Homo sapiens: one gene and its partners. Changing the gene in region 2 together with the main gene of any one other region gives a genetic interaction. Each region holds a gene or a part of one and is shown on either strand. Other genes may lie near its edges.

Region 1 (3,500 bases), on a different chromosome or scaffold from region 2:
CACCTCACTTGTAGATGAAGTACAAAGCAGAGAACAATTCTTAAACAGAAGCTTCACAGCAGCCACTTGAGTCTGGGCACTGAGTGCCACAGAGTGGGAAGAGGATGCTGTAGATTTGAGTGTTAGCCCTGAGGGATGCAGTTGAAACCTCACATTCCTTCCAAATCAGCTGTGCTGGCTCAGACTACTCCACTTCATGGTGATCCAATGTCTACCTCCAGCAAGGAAAGATGAGGTCAATAAGGAAGTCTGACACAAAATAACATGGGGACTCAGCCAAAAGCTGGGAATAGAGAAATGAAAAGCAGCTTGAATTCGAGCATTAAGAGAAAAGAGGGCTTGTGCTGGGCTCCCTGCCTTCTTGACACAAACATGACACTAAAGAAAAATAATCATGTAGGCCTGGCACGGTGGCTCACGCCTGTAATCCCAGCACTTTGGGAGGCCAAGGTGGGCAGATCACGAGGTCAGGAGATCGAGACCATCCTGGCTAACACGGTGAAACCCCGTCTCTACTAAAAATACAGAAAATTAGCTGGACGTGGTGGCGGGCGCCTGTAGTCCCAGCCACTCGGGAGGCTGAAGCAGGAGAATGGCACGAACCCAGGAGGCGGAGCTTGCAGTGAGCCGATATCGCGCCACAGCACTCCAGCCTCGGGGACAGAGCGAGACTCCGTCTCAAAAAAAAAAAAAAAAAAAAAGAAAGAAAAGAAAAATAATCGTGTGAGGGCCAGGGCTGGGATGCTATTACTTGCACAATTTCAGAGAGCTCAGTTTCCAGGGCTGAGTATATGAAATGTTGTCGTGTGGTTCTCAAACACACACAAAAATAATCAGCCGGTGACCAAGTCCTATATTCCCAGAAACCAAAGAGGAGGGCTGCAATCTACATTTTTAATAAATACCCCAGGTTATGATGACATACTTGGTCCAGAGACTACTATGTCAGAGACACTGCTCTAGGGCAAAAGAAAAAAAAAGGATAGGGGTCAGAACTAAAAGGGTTTTATCACCTAACTTTCAAACCAACCTCATAAGATTATGATAAATAACAAATCACTACACATAAACTGCTTAAAACAGTAAACTGTTTTACTGTTTTTTTACAACTATGTTAGCTATTAGTGATACTATCATCATGATAATAATTATTATCTAAGGTAAAGTCGTCTTTACTATGTCGTTCACCTTAAAAGTCAGTTTTGAACTTAATACCTTTCTTCATTCCGCAATGAATAAACTGTGTTAGTTTATGTAAAACTCCTCAAGAATAGGGAACCTGTCTCACTTAAATTCGTATCACTAGCTTGTTGCATGGTTCCAGGTACCTATCACAAAGCAAGTGCTCAAAAAATCTGTGAAATTGAGCCACATTGCACAGACCATGGGATTCAAAAACGACATTAGTAATGATGGTGGGGAATGCAAGACCTTCCTTTTAGAGGGGACTATGTTGGGTTTTTTCCTAAAAACAAAAAAGGGAAAACCTGGGCTCATAGGATAGAAAGCTTTATAAAGTAATTATTCCTCTGGAGTTTAAAAAAAAAGAACTATTATTAAATATACATGCAGTGTATTACATGAAAATGCCTAAGGCTTTCTTTATGCACCACTGTGACCACTGTCTTGATAAACTCCACACACACAACAGAACAAAAAAGACACACACACACACATAGAGAGAGAGAAGGAAAGAACACATGCCATCACAATGCCATTACCTTGGGTCTACATTTGGGATACTCATGGTCACCTGGGAGCACCTTGAAAGAAATTGGTACTCGATCAGCTCTCCGATTTGCACAGAAGGCGTCCCAGACAGCTCGATGGACTGCATTATAAACTACATCCAGGCCCGTTAGAGTAACAAAGGCCATAGGCCGGCAACATAATTCCACAGGGAAGTCCCACTGTGTGGGGCTCATGTTTACGATGTCACAAAAAACCTGAAATACAAATGTTAATACATTCATAATTAATTTTTAAAAACTCATATTCATTTCTCCAGCCTGGGCAACAAGAGCAAAACTCTGTCTCAAAAAAAAAAAAAAAAAAACAACTCATATTCATTTCCAATATATGAATCTCTATTTAAAAATCATTACAAAAAAATAATCATTACAAGGCCAGGCATGGTGGCTCACGCATACAATCCCAACACTTTGGGAGGCCGAAGCAGGTGGATCACTGGAGGCCAGGAGTTAAAGACCAGCCTAGCCAACACAGTGAAACCTTGTCTCTACTAAAAATACAAAAAATTGGTTGGTCGTGGTGACTCACGCCTGTAATCCCAGCACTTTGGGAGGCCTAGGTGGGCAGATCACGAGGTCAGGAGATCGAGACCATCCTGGCTAACACGGTGAAACCCTGTCTCTACTAAATATCCAAAAAATTAGCCGGGCGTGGTGGTGGGCGCCTGTAGTCCCAGCTACTCAGGAGGCTGAGGCAGGAGAATGGCGTGAACCCGGGAGGTGGAGGTTGCAGTGAGCCAAGATGGCGCCACTGCACTCTAGCCTGGATGACAGAGGGAGACTCTGTCTCAAAAACAAAAAACAAAAAATTAGCTGGACATGGTGGCACACACCTGTAACCCCAACTACTTGGAGGCTGAGGCAGGAGAATCACTTGAACCCAGGAGGCGGAGGCTCCAGTGAGCCAAGATCACGGCACTCCACTCCAATCTGGGTGACAGAGTGAGACTCTGTCTCAAAAAAAATAAAATAAATAAAATAATCATTACAAAAAGGCAAAAGGCTTTGAGTATCTGCAAACTGTCAAACAAACAGAAGAGAGAAAAAGGGAAAACTTTAATTCCTGAATTAGATCTATTAAAATGTAATAACTATATGACATTTAAGAAAAAATCTTTCATGTTAAAAATGAAGTCAACTTTAAGACAAATCGGCATTTTCAGTAATGTCTCAAAATGCACACAGAACTTTGAAATTAGTAGACCAAGAAAGCAAGAAGGTGATAAAATTAAAATAGATCTACATGATCTATTTCAACTATAAAAGAAAAATATATTGAAAGAAAAATATAAAAGAAAAACAGTTGACTTACATATAATAAACTTCCCCTAATTTCTCTGTAATTGCTAATATTGAATTTCTGAATACCTAGGATATTATTAAAATAGCCTTTAATTTATGTAATTATCTAAATAGTAGCTATGTTGTCTCATTTCCCACAATATAAAATTTACTCTTTAAAGAAAAATCTGTAAGGGAAAAACTAACAATGAATGGAAACCTCTCGGAGGATGTTTCCACTGCGTCCTTTAGCTAAGAATCAGTCCATAATAAATCTAACGTATGCCCTGACTTTATAAGTATATAAAACTATGTTTATCCCGAACAAGACTGTCATTATATTTTTAATATAATCTTACTTGCAAAAGGATGTAACAACATGAGGTTCTTTTTTTTTTTTTTTTTTGAGACGGAGTATCACTCTGTCACCAGGCTGGAGTGCACTGGCCCAATATCAGCTCACTACAA
Region 2 (3,500 bases):
TTCTATCACTGTTACTTGGGCCCTGAGGTTTTCTATTAAAATAGGACATGAAATATTTCAATATTATGCATATTCCTGGAATAATTAAAATTTATACTGATTATAAAGCTAGGCATATAATACATCCCAAAAGACATACATTTCAAAGCAGACCAAACATTCAAATCTTCAGATCCCCCCATTTAACTTCTGGAAGAAAACCAAGCGATCTCCTGGCTTGGGCCCTTTCTTCCTTAAAAATCTATGGAAGACTGTTTTCTTTCTTTTTAAATTTGTGTGATTATGGCAGCAGAGGGCAGGGGGTGGTGATAACAGCATATCAAAGTGGTTACAAAGTACTCCCTCTTCAAGTAGCATCCAGTGACAAAGATGTGATCTCATTTCCTCATAAATGTTTGACTGAAATAAAATTATTTTCACTGAAGAATGTTTAGGACACAAATAAAGTCACAGAATGAGCAATTCCAGTACATCTCCTATGAATGACATTTTAAGGAAGCTACTTGAGGAGTTTTGCTTTCCCTTTTCAACTCTTCTATCCCTATACATTCTACATACGTAGAAACAGAGTACTCAATAAGTGGTATTGAGTAACTAGTAATACTCATTGGAACTTAAAACATCATCTTTTATCCAAAAATTTCAAAGGGCAATATAGGAAAGTATTACAAATTTACATAAAAAGAAGATGAAACATGAGAAAAAACAAGTTATTTCCCTGCAAAGCAGATCAAATAGTGAGACAAGGAACTTTGACTTCTAGTCCCTTTAAGCAGGACGTAACTGCTAGACACAGTCTGAATGTCTAGATATATTTATACTAAACTTACAAGGATCAAAAAAAGGAATGAAGGGTAAATACAAAATAATCTTTTTGTAAACAATTCTTAGATTATACCCAATGCAGAATGTTTAATGAAGCAGTTGAGTCACAGCTCATAAGTCACAAAACCATATTATAACTCAAAGTCAAATATGTATTCGTTTGCCAGATATATTCGTCGGAATATAAGAGCTGCCAATGCCAAAGTCAGGATGACAATCAGTACAGCTGACCCACCATGATCAGTGTGGTTGTCTCTTGGCTGGTGGCCCTGGATTACATCTGGTGAAGTAGACAACCTTCTCTGACTCTGCTGCTGGGCCCGGCGCTGTCGAGGGCTCATGGAGGTATTCTTAGCTACAGGTTGGGTAGGTTGATGAAAGGATGCTGCTGAGGAATTCTGGAGTCCGTACTAGGAAATTTTAAGAAACTTTGTTTGAAACTGGCAAAGAAGATTTGTAAATACACTTGTTATCTATTCAAGAATACACAATCTCAGAGGACAACATATGACTAAGGGCAACACTACCAAGAATGATTGTTACTAATAATACATCCCTTGAGGGGCATCTAAATTTAGGTTCAAAAAAAAGTCATAAGTTAGGACAGCTTTTTGGCCTTTTAATAGTTTTATTAATATATTTAGAAAAACAATCCCTTAAAACATTGGTCTAGATGATATTTTAACACATACGCTTAATGAAAATATGTATATACATATAATGTTTTAATTAGGTTCCTATGTTTCAGATGCCTTTTGTCTCTATTTTTTTAATCATTATTTTTTTAGAGATGGGATCTTGTTACATTGCCCAGGCTGGTCTTGAACTCCTGGGATCAAGCGATCCTCCTGCCTTGGCCTCCCAAAGTGCTGGGATTATAGGCATGAACCAACGTGCCCAGCCTCAGATGCCTTTTGGATGGTATATCACTAACTAAAAATTAAGTGCCTTGATATTATAAAATTCTAAATTTTTTCCTATTTAAAACAATCATACAGCACTTTGGGAGGTTGAGGCAGGAGGACTGCTTGAGCCCAGGCATCTGAGACCAGTCTGGCCAACATAGTGAGACACTATCTCTACAGAAAAATTTTAAAACTTAGCCAGGTGTGGTCATGCCCACCTGTGGTCCTAGCTACTTGGGAGGTTAAGGCAAGAGGATCACTTGAGCTCAGGAGGTTGAGGCTTCGGTGAGCTATGATCACATGCCTGCACTCCAACCTGAGCAACAGAGTGAGACTCTCCCTTAAAAAGATAAAAAATCACATTCTTAGTTAAGTCCCTAGTGATATATATATAAATTTTTCTAGAATAACCAGCATGTGTGAGGGAGTTTTGCTTTTTATTATAAAATGAAATGGCTTATTCAGAACCTCGATCCCTACCCTGGGAAAAGGAGAAAATCTGACAGACTGCAAGAACAAAACTGCCTTCAGTGTTTTTCCCATTTCTACATTTCCCATTGCTTTTTGATGCTAAAATATCTGCATTAAAAAGCAACAGATGGCCTGATGTTATCTGAGGTATTTAGAGTTGTGGCAATCTCTTGCCTCTCCTTCAGGCTAACAACAACAAAAAAATCATAGCTTATCTGGGATTTGATGTATAACATCTCAATTAATTTATATTATACTTAATGTAAAATAACCACCCTTAGCCAAACCAGGTTTCAGTTACTTTCATAGTGGTCAAATTATATAATCATACTCTGAGATAGTTTATATGTAAATATAATTAAAAACTTAACTTGCAATTTTAGACAATTTATTGCTTGTTGGTATTTTCACTAAAAATAGTCTCAATTAATGACCTGTATCTATGAATAAGAATTCTAAGTTTTATGTACTAAATCAAAACAAGAAATACTACTATAATAACATCATTATTTGTACACTCTAATTTACTTAAACTTCTTGATTTATTTAATTGTATTCTTAGCATTTTTTAAAGTACCAATCCTAAGATTCATTCATTCAATCAACAAACAAACATTGGCAATCTACTATATAGAAGGCACTAAGCCAGGCACTGGGGATACAGTGGAGAAGCGGAAAGAGACCCCTGACCCTCACAGAACTTACATTCTGGGAAGAGAGATAGACAATAAATAATTACAAAGTAAATTACAACTGGAATAAGTATAACTGGAATATGTAACAAGGGGACTTAACATAGATTGAAAATACACAAAAGATTTAAATACATCACAAACATTAGGAGGCTGTCCTAAAAGGTGAAAAAAGATTACCACCTTCCTTTTTGTAATAGAATGCTTCTATTAGAAAAAAAACTATGAAATAAAAAGTAATTAGAAAGCTTTTTCAATATCTTGAACTAAAACATATTGACCTTAAAATTAATTCATTGTTTTCCCCTGCAATTCATAAAATTACATTGGGATCACACAAAAATGATTTAAACTCATCGCTACACACTTTTTTCTTGGACCTCCATCTTCAGTCCCCCTAGACTACCACCCTGTTCTTCTTCAACCAACTTTTCTCTGCCCAGCTCACTCTCTGAATAGGAGAGACTCACTCAAGACTATTCACTCCCACTTTACGTACGTTATTGCTGGGTAAAGGGCAAATCTATATTTGCCCAACTTCTATTTCAATTTTCCCTCACCCTTTAAAGTCTTCAATAAACTGGAGAAACAACAACAAAAAAAATGT
Region 3 (3,500 bases), on a different chromosome or scaffold from region 2:
TTATGGACTTCTGAACGAGATATAAGGTCAAAAAATGCACAATTTATTAGGTATTGAGTGCCTTCAATGTGTAAGCTACTATGAAACAAATAGCTCATTGAGACAAAGGGGAAGATTTTACCTCCTTAAACACATTTTTTCAAAGAACCAAAAGTACACATTGATGACTACTATTTCATTAAATGCATATATTTCTTACCTATTATTCATGAGTGCATTCCCAAATGATCTTCTATTTGATAATACATAGTCTAGTTGTACATAAATGAAAGTACATTTCTCTATGTATCTTACAATTCTGTCTAAATATTCTCAAAATTAGTTCTTTTCTTTTTTAAATCAGACAGGGTCTTGCTCTGTCACCCAGGCTGGAATGCAATGGTGTGATCATAGCTCACTCCAACCACGAACTCTTGGGCTTAAGTGATCCTACCTCAGCCTCCCAAATAGCTAGGACTACAGGCATGTGCCACCACGCCTGGCTAATTTTTTATTTTTTTTTTTAGAGATAGGGTCTCACTATGTTGTCCAGGCTAGTCTTGAACTCATAGCCTCAAGTGATCCTCCCACCTTGGCCTCCCAAAGTGCTGGGATTACAGGCATAAGCAAACATCATGCCTGGCCTAGTTCAAAGTTTTAGTAAAGATTTTATCCATATCCTTTATTCCCTTGTTAATTAAACTCTAGGAGATCCACTTCTAAGGAGAATGATTTTTGCAATCATCTTGTAATAGACTAAATTTACTTATTTTTATAACTTAGTAAAAAATTATACATAACATTCCATAGTCAAGATATCACAAAGAACAATGAAAAAGCCAAAGATGAGATGAGAAGAACTTGTTGATTAATTTTCCAAGATGAAATAAAATTAGAAAGCAAGAAAAGTAAATTACAGATTTGTTCATTAGTGGTTAAAAAAAAAAAAACACCCAGAAAATTAAAAGGAAAAATTAATGATGTAACTCTGTGTTCAAGGACTCTTCTCAATTATTTACAAAAATTATCAACTAAGGACACATTTATTGAAAATCATGACAATAAGTTTAGTGAAATATCCTTTACTTCAACTCCATGTTCAGTACTAATTCAGAGGCCTATTAGCCACTGATAGTTGGCCCAAAATTATAGGCCAAGAAAAACATTAACTTTACATGCAATGCAATGCAGTGAGGATGTTTGAATAAAATCTCTTTTCAGTTTGACATCCTGAGAGTCATCTGACCAAATTATGTTAATCTCACATCAACTGTTAGTTTTAAACCATATAATCCAGAAACAAGGTTGGAGAACTAGAGTCTGGAGATGATACTTCTGTCAGTATAGGTAGATAGATTCCTATCCTAAACATCTCAAAGAAAACAATTTACTTCAACTTTATTTTGCCATAAGTAGTCAAGAAAATTTTCCTTATTTTAATGTGAGATACACAAATATCACAAATTTGTCCAATATAATATGAAAAAAAAATAAGTACCTCTCCCAAGAGCTGCTCTTCAGCAGCAGGGCTCTCCTCCCCATCACTCTGTGCTACTTGGTCAGAGTCTTTAAGAGCCTTTGGTACACAAAACAATTACAGGGGAAGGTGAAGAATGTAGTATTAAAAGGCTATTAGTGAACCAGGAAGACAAAAGACCCAACCAACAACATTCAGAGCTAGTTTAATCATAAGAAGCAACAGTGAGTAAATTTATTTGAGAAATACCATTAGAGGAAAAGCAAAGAACTATTACTGCTAACACTTTCCCATTCTTTTTTTTTTTTTTTTTTTTTTTTTTGAGACCGAGTCTCACTCTGTCGCCCAGGCTGGAGTTCAGTGGCACGATCCCGGCTCACTGCAACCTCCGCCTCCCAGTTCAAGCAATTCTCCTGCCTTAGCCGCCCAAGTAGCTGGGATTACAGGCATGTGCCACCACGCCCAGCTAATTTTTGTATTTTTAGTAGAGACAGGGTTTCACCATGTTGGTCAGGCTGGTCTTGAACTCCTGACCTCAGGTGATCCACCTGCCTCGGCCTCCCAAAGTGCTGGGATTACAGGCATGAGCCAACACACCCGGCCCACTTTCCCATTCTTTCCTACCATTTTTTTTTTCCTGGCCAAAAAAAAAAAAAAAAATTTTATCTTAAGTATTTGAGTAGTCATTAATTCTGTTTTTCCTGCTTTACAAAATTCAAATATGTATGTCAAGAGAAAGGAATGCTCTACCAGCTAAGCTCATGTTATTTTAAAATGAGAATTATTAATTTATTAAAATATCTAGAATAAGCATTTATTTTTATACCATAAAGCATAAAACACAAATTTCTTAAATGATATTTCCTTCTTCGTTATGACCTAGCCAAAGTTTTAGAAGGTAGCTATTTTTAAAGGCCTTCTTACCACATTGGCTCCATCCACTTTGTTCAAGGCCAAAGCAATCTGAAATAAAAATAACAGCTCACCTACTACATGGAATTCTATTTCAGAGCATCCAGCAAATGTTCACCTCTTGCTTCTCACTGGCGAAAATCCACAAAAGTTCTTATAGGAATAGTATGTTTAAAAAAATTAAAAAAGCTATGCAGAACTGGTTCTCCATGGTGCTAGCTTCTTTCACATGGAAGTAATTAGAAATAATCCGACAATCATTCTATTTCCTCATTTTTTGCCATCAGGCATGCAAGTAAAACTTTCATATCAATCTCTTACAAGCCTAAAAAAGTTACAGCCTCAAGAAGTTTAGACTACTAATAAAGTTAAATATAAAACTCTAAAGGAGTGAGCAAAGACATAGCCACTAAGCAGTGGGGTTGTGATGTGATCTTAGTTAGTTCTGCCTGACATCAAAAGAGCACTAATCTTCAATATGCACTTAAAGTGCACAGTATACCTCTACCACACATGCAACAACCTGCAATGCTATAGAAAACTCTAGCCATTTCCAAAGAATGATGAAAGGCTAATACAAGTTACATAGTCATTTATCAATATGTATTCAAAACTCTGGCAACCACTGTGGGTAATGATGGAGAATAAGAAAAAGAAAAAGGGAAAAAACGCTGGCAACCAAACACAAATTATTATTAAATGTTTATTGGGTGATTTGAGATAATCTGTGTAGAACTTTATTTTTTAAAAGTATGATTCATAAAGAGCATGCCATCTAACTTTCCCAAAAGTTTACCTTCTTTCCTAGATCTTCTTTTCTGTATCCTAGAAGTTCAAGGTATTTTCCACGAGAATCATCCTCAAAGTTTACCTTTAAAAAAAAAGACATATTCTTAAAACAAAGACCTACATTTAAAGGCCGAATTTTTATAAGAATGAATCAAATTCCAAAGAGAATTATTAAAAATATCTGAAGTCTACATTCTAAAGATTCACTGTTTGAAGGAATCCAAAGAATAGTGGGTTTTTTTGTTTTTTATTTGGAGACCCAGCCTCAGGAGGTCCTGAGAACATGTGCCCAGAATTATTTTTTTAAATAAGTTATTTATTAATAGTAAATATACTAGTAATT
Region 4 (3,500 bases), on a different chromosome or scaffold from region 2:
GGCAGGGGGTGAGGACTAAAAAACTACCTATTGGGTATTATCCTGATTACATGGGTGACAAAACTATTTGTACACCAAACCCCTGTGGCACACAATTTACCCATATCACAAATCTGCACATGTACCCCTTGAACCTAAAATAAAAGTTAGAAAGAAAAAAAAATTAGTGGGCTTCCATTTTAAGCAACCTCAGCCATCTCAGGCTATGAAGAATCCCTCTGAAGGGAATGTTTACCATGCATTATCAAGCTCCTACCATGACAGGCACTGAGCTTCAAGGTAAACATGTCTATATTCCTAGTTAAGTGCAGTCTTATTTTTCTTAGGGAGCTGGTGTGTTTAATAGTAGTAATGACATGTAAGCTGTGTGAGGGCAAGGTCCATGTCTGTCTCCTTCCCTAGTATATCCTAGCACCTAGTGCAAAGTAGGCATTTAAATATGTTAAACAAACATACATGCTTCTACAAAACTTTTACTGTTTTAATCCCTTTGAGCATTTTTATGAGGTGATGTGTAAAACCAATTACAAGATTATGCTTATGGGGAACCTACAATGACTCCAATCATCAGCCAAGTAATAATTAGCACTAACTATCATTAATACTGAATTATCTGTATTAGAAGAAATAAACAATCATTCAACATTTGATACTTTCCTTCAAAACAGGATACATTATCGTTTTAGGCAAAGTATACATTTTGTATCGTTGTTTGAAAACAGCCTATCAATTGTTATTACATATCTTTGGAAACATCATTATAAATCTAGACTAGTCTCCCACTTTGAACTACATTCATGCCACATAAATAGCACTCCAAAGAGAATTGTTTCGAGTTTTATTTTTTAAAAAATTACACTTGAGGTAAGGAAAAAAATACAGTAAAATTAGATTTTAGAGATTAACCAAAATCCAAACTATACAACTTAATTCATGACTAATTCAATCACAGTTTGTAACAAAAGGAACAGAACATTTTTACCTTCAAATTCAGTGTAAACAATAATTTATCACATTTAAAAGAAGGCTGCCAATAAGCAGAACTCAGCAATTTCTTGACTTAATTGACAAGCCTAGGAATTCTAAAAAGTCATTAAAAATTTTAAAACCTGTAAAAATTATTTTATCTATTTCAATCCATATTCATTTCATTCAGAATATTCTTTTTGACAATCAGTGGAATTCATTACATACTAAAAATAACACCATATTTATGCACAAATAAATTAATTTTTCCAGTAAGAGCTAATCTTCCTTTAAGAAGACTTCCCACATATTCACAATACATAATATCACAGAACACCCATATTTGGCCTAAATGCCTCTGAATTGTAGCATTACAAGATGGAAGTTCATTGTGCCTAATAATTTGATTGAGTTTTGTCCAAATGTCTTCCAGAGTTTGGCTGTTACAAATAGTGTGTTCTATTGTCCATCTTGCTCTATAAAGTGAGTGTAAATTTAGTGCCTTTAAACTATCTTGCAATTTTTTAGACAAAGGAGAAACGTTTTTAGTACAATTATTGCTGGGAAGGGAAATACTCCAAGATCTCCTCTTGTGCTGTTTTCCCTTTTCTGATTGTTTACCCAGATTTCCAGAATTAGTCTGTTCCTTCAGTGTGTGTGACCAGGTTAAATGCTGCTTTTTCAAGCTAGGTTGAAACTCCAATAGATCTACTGTGCAATCATAACTGTGTGACTTAGCATCATGTTCTGAAATGGTTAAGTACTGTTTCACATCTTCAGCTGCCTCTTCAGAAATCACAGGTGGTGATCTTTTAGGTCTGAGTGGAAGCTTGGACCCATCATATGGAAACCAAGGTATAAATCTTGATAGCGGACGAGTAGGAAAGTCTTGAATTGCTTTTTCTGCAATTTTTGGCAGTTGTGTGGGATCACTCTCACATGGTCGATAATGTAATATTACTTCTGTAGTCATTCTGCAGTAATCCAGTTACTCTTAGTGATGAGAAAATTTCTTAGTTGAACTCCTCAGAGCTAGAATGTTAATTTATTATTGCAAGATTGTCTCTCTTGCCAAATCAGAGGGAAACAGGACCTAAAGTAGAAGTATTGCAAAGAATAAGATATGGTAGGGATACCCTGCCTACCAACAGGCAGGGAGAAAAGGAAAAACAAAAAACAAAAACCAATCCCAATGTGGTATTTTACCAAAGTGCTATTGGTAAATGTGAATGTAATCTACAAACCTGAAAATTCTTTCTCTTACCAAAATAAGGGATCTGAACTAGATGCCCTATAAAATCACTTCCTGCCTAAAAACGCTAGTAGTCAACATGTTTAACTCAATAGATATAAAGGACTTGGAAGTATCGATATTAATATATTAAGTAATAATAGTCTTAAAACTTTAGCAGAAACAAAGAGTAAATGAATGATTCTTAAAATATTGTTTTCATATGAATTAACAAAAAATGTAATATTTAAAAATTTGAGGCAACTAAATTGAGGACAATGAAATCACTGTAAATTCTAATCCAACATGGTGAAAACCCATCTCTACTCAAAATACAAAAAAAAATTAGCTGGGTGTGGTGGCGCATGCCTGTAGTCCCAGCTACTAGGGAAGCTGAGGCAGGAGAATAGCTTGAACCTGGGAGCCAGAGGTTGCAGTGAGCCAAGATCATGCCACTCAGCCTGGGCGATAGAGCAAGACTTCATCTCATTAAAAAAAAAAAAAATTCTAATCTGTCTGGAAGAAAATTAATCATTTTATACTTAAAATTATGTAGATTTGCCAGGTGCGGTGGCTCATGCCTGTAATCCCAGAACTTTATGGGGGCCAAGGCGGGCAGATCACGAGGTCAGGAGCTTGAGACCAGCCTGGCCAACATGGTGAAACTCCGGCTCTACTAAAGATACAAAAAATAGCCGGCTGTGGTGGCGTGTGCCTGTAATCCCAGCTACTCAGGAGGCTGAGGGAGGAGAATCGCTTGAACCCGGGAGGTTGAGGTTTGCAGTGAACTGAGATCGCGCCATCGTACTCCCATTGCACTCCAGCCTGGGTGACAGGGCAAGACTCCGTCTCAAAAAAAAAAAAAAAATTATATGGATTCCACCAAACAAATATATAGATAGAATATTTGATGATTTCACGTCATTCTCTGTAGTAAAAACTAAAACCATTAATATGGTTTAACTTTGCTAATATGGTTTAACCAGGCTAAGAACCAGTTTTGTGACACTGTCTTCTCCTCATAATCCAGGCAATTAAACAGTATGGAGACCCCAATACCATGGCTTTTGAATTCCAGTTTGGAAGAGAACAAGAAGTCTAGACTCCTATTTTTTTCTCTTAGAGCACAGAAGTCCTCAAGTTGCCCCAAATTAAGTCACTGATAATAAATTCCAGCATATGGTGCATAGGCTCAAGAATGGAGCCTTCCAATATCTGCAAGTTAGGCTTGCTAATCAGGCCCAAAGCTGTAAGAGCCATAAAACAGACTTTTTCACATCCTAACAACAGCAGAAAAAAATAA

The links.
Region 1: changes in UBE2J1 (region 2) and TRAPPC11 together harm fitness less than expected from each alone (positive genetic interaction), as found in Homo sapiens cells (one large-scale study listed by BioGRID).
Region 3: changes in UBE2J1 (region 2) and SEC31A together harm fitness less than expected from each alone (positive genetic interaction), as found in Homo sapiens cells (one large-scale study listed by BioGRID).
Region 4: changes in UBE2J1 (region 2) and TRAPPC13 together harm fitness more than expected from each alone (negative genetic interaction), as found in Homo sapiens cells (one large-scale study listed by BioGRID).

What each region holds. Positions count from the first base shown.
Region 1 is NC_000004.12:183,662,293-183,665,792, reverse strand, and holds part of TRAPPC11 (trafficking protein particle complex subunit 11), read right to left. Parts: intron 1,947-3,500; 5' UTR 1,926-1,946; coding exon 1,722-1,925; intron 1-1,721. UniProt on the Homo sapiens protein: Involved in endoplasmic reticulum to Golgi apparatus trafficking at a very early stage.
Region 2 is NC_000006.12:89,328,723-89,332,222, forward strand, and holds part of UBE2J1 (ubiquitin-conjugating enzyme E2 J1), read right to left. Parts: intron 1,266-3,500; coding exon of another isoform or gene 1,236-1,265; coding exon 957-1,235; 3' UTR 1-956. UniProt on the Homo sapiens protein: Catalyzes the covalent attachment of ubiquitin to other proteins. Functions in the selective degradation of misfolded membrane proteins from the endoplasmic reticulum (ERAD) and is essential for cells to recover from ER stress.
Region 3 is NC_000004.12:82,860,154-82,863,653, forward strand, and holds part of SEC31A (protein transport protein Sec31A), read right to left. Parts: intron 3,240-3,500; coding exon 3,165-3,239; intron 2,420-3,164; coding exon 2,381-2,419; intron 1,556-2,380; coding exon 1,478-1,555; intron 1-1,477. UniProt on the Homo sapiens protein: Component of the coat protein complex II (COPII) which promotes the formation of transport vesicles from the endoplasmic reticulum (ER).
Region 4 is NC_000005.10:65,628,027-65,631,526, reverse strand, and holds part of TRAPPC13 (trafficking protein particle complex subunit 13), read right to left. Parts: intron 2,060-3,500; exon of another isoform or gene 1,940-2,059; coding exon of another isoform or gene 1,187-1,939; exon of another isoform or gene 599-1,186; intron 1-598. Other genes in the region: SHLD3 (shieldin complex subunit 3), read right to left, coding at 1,187-1,939.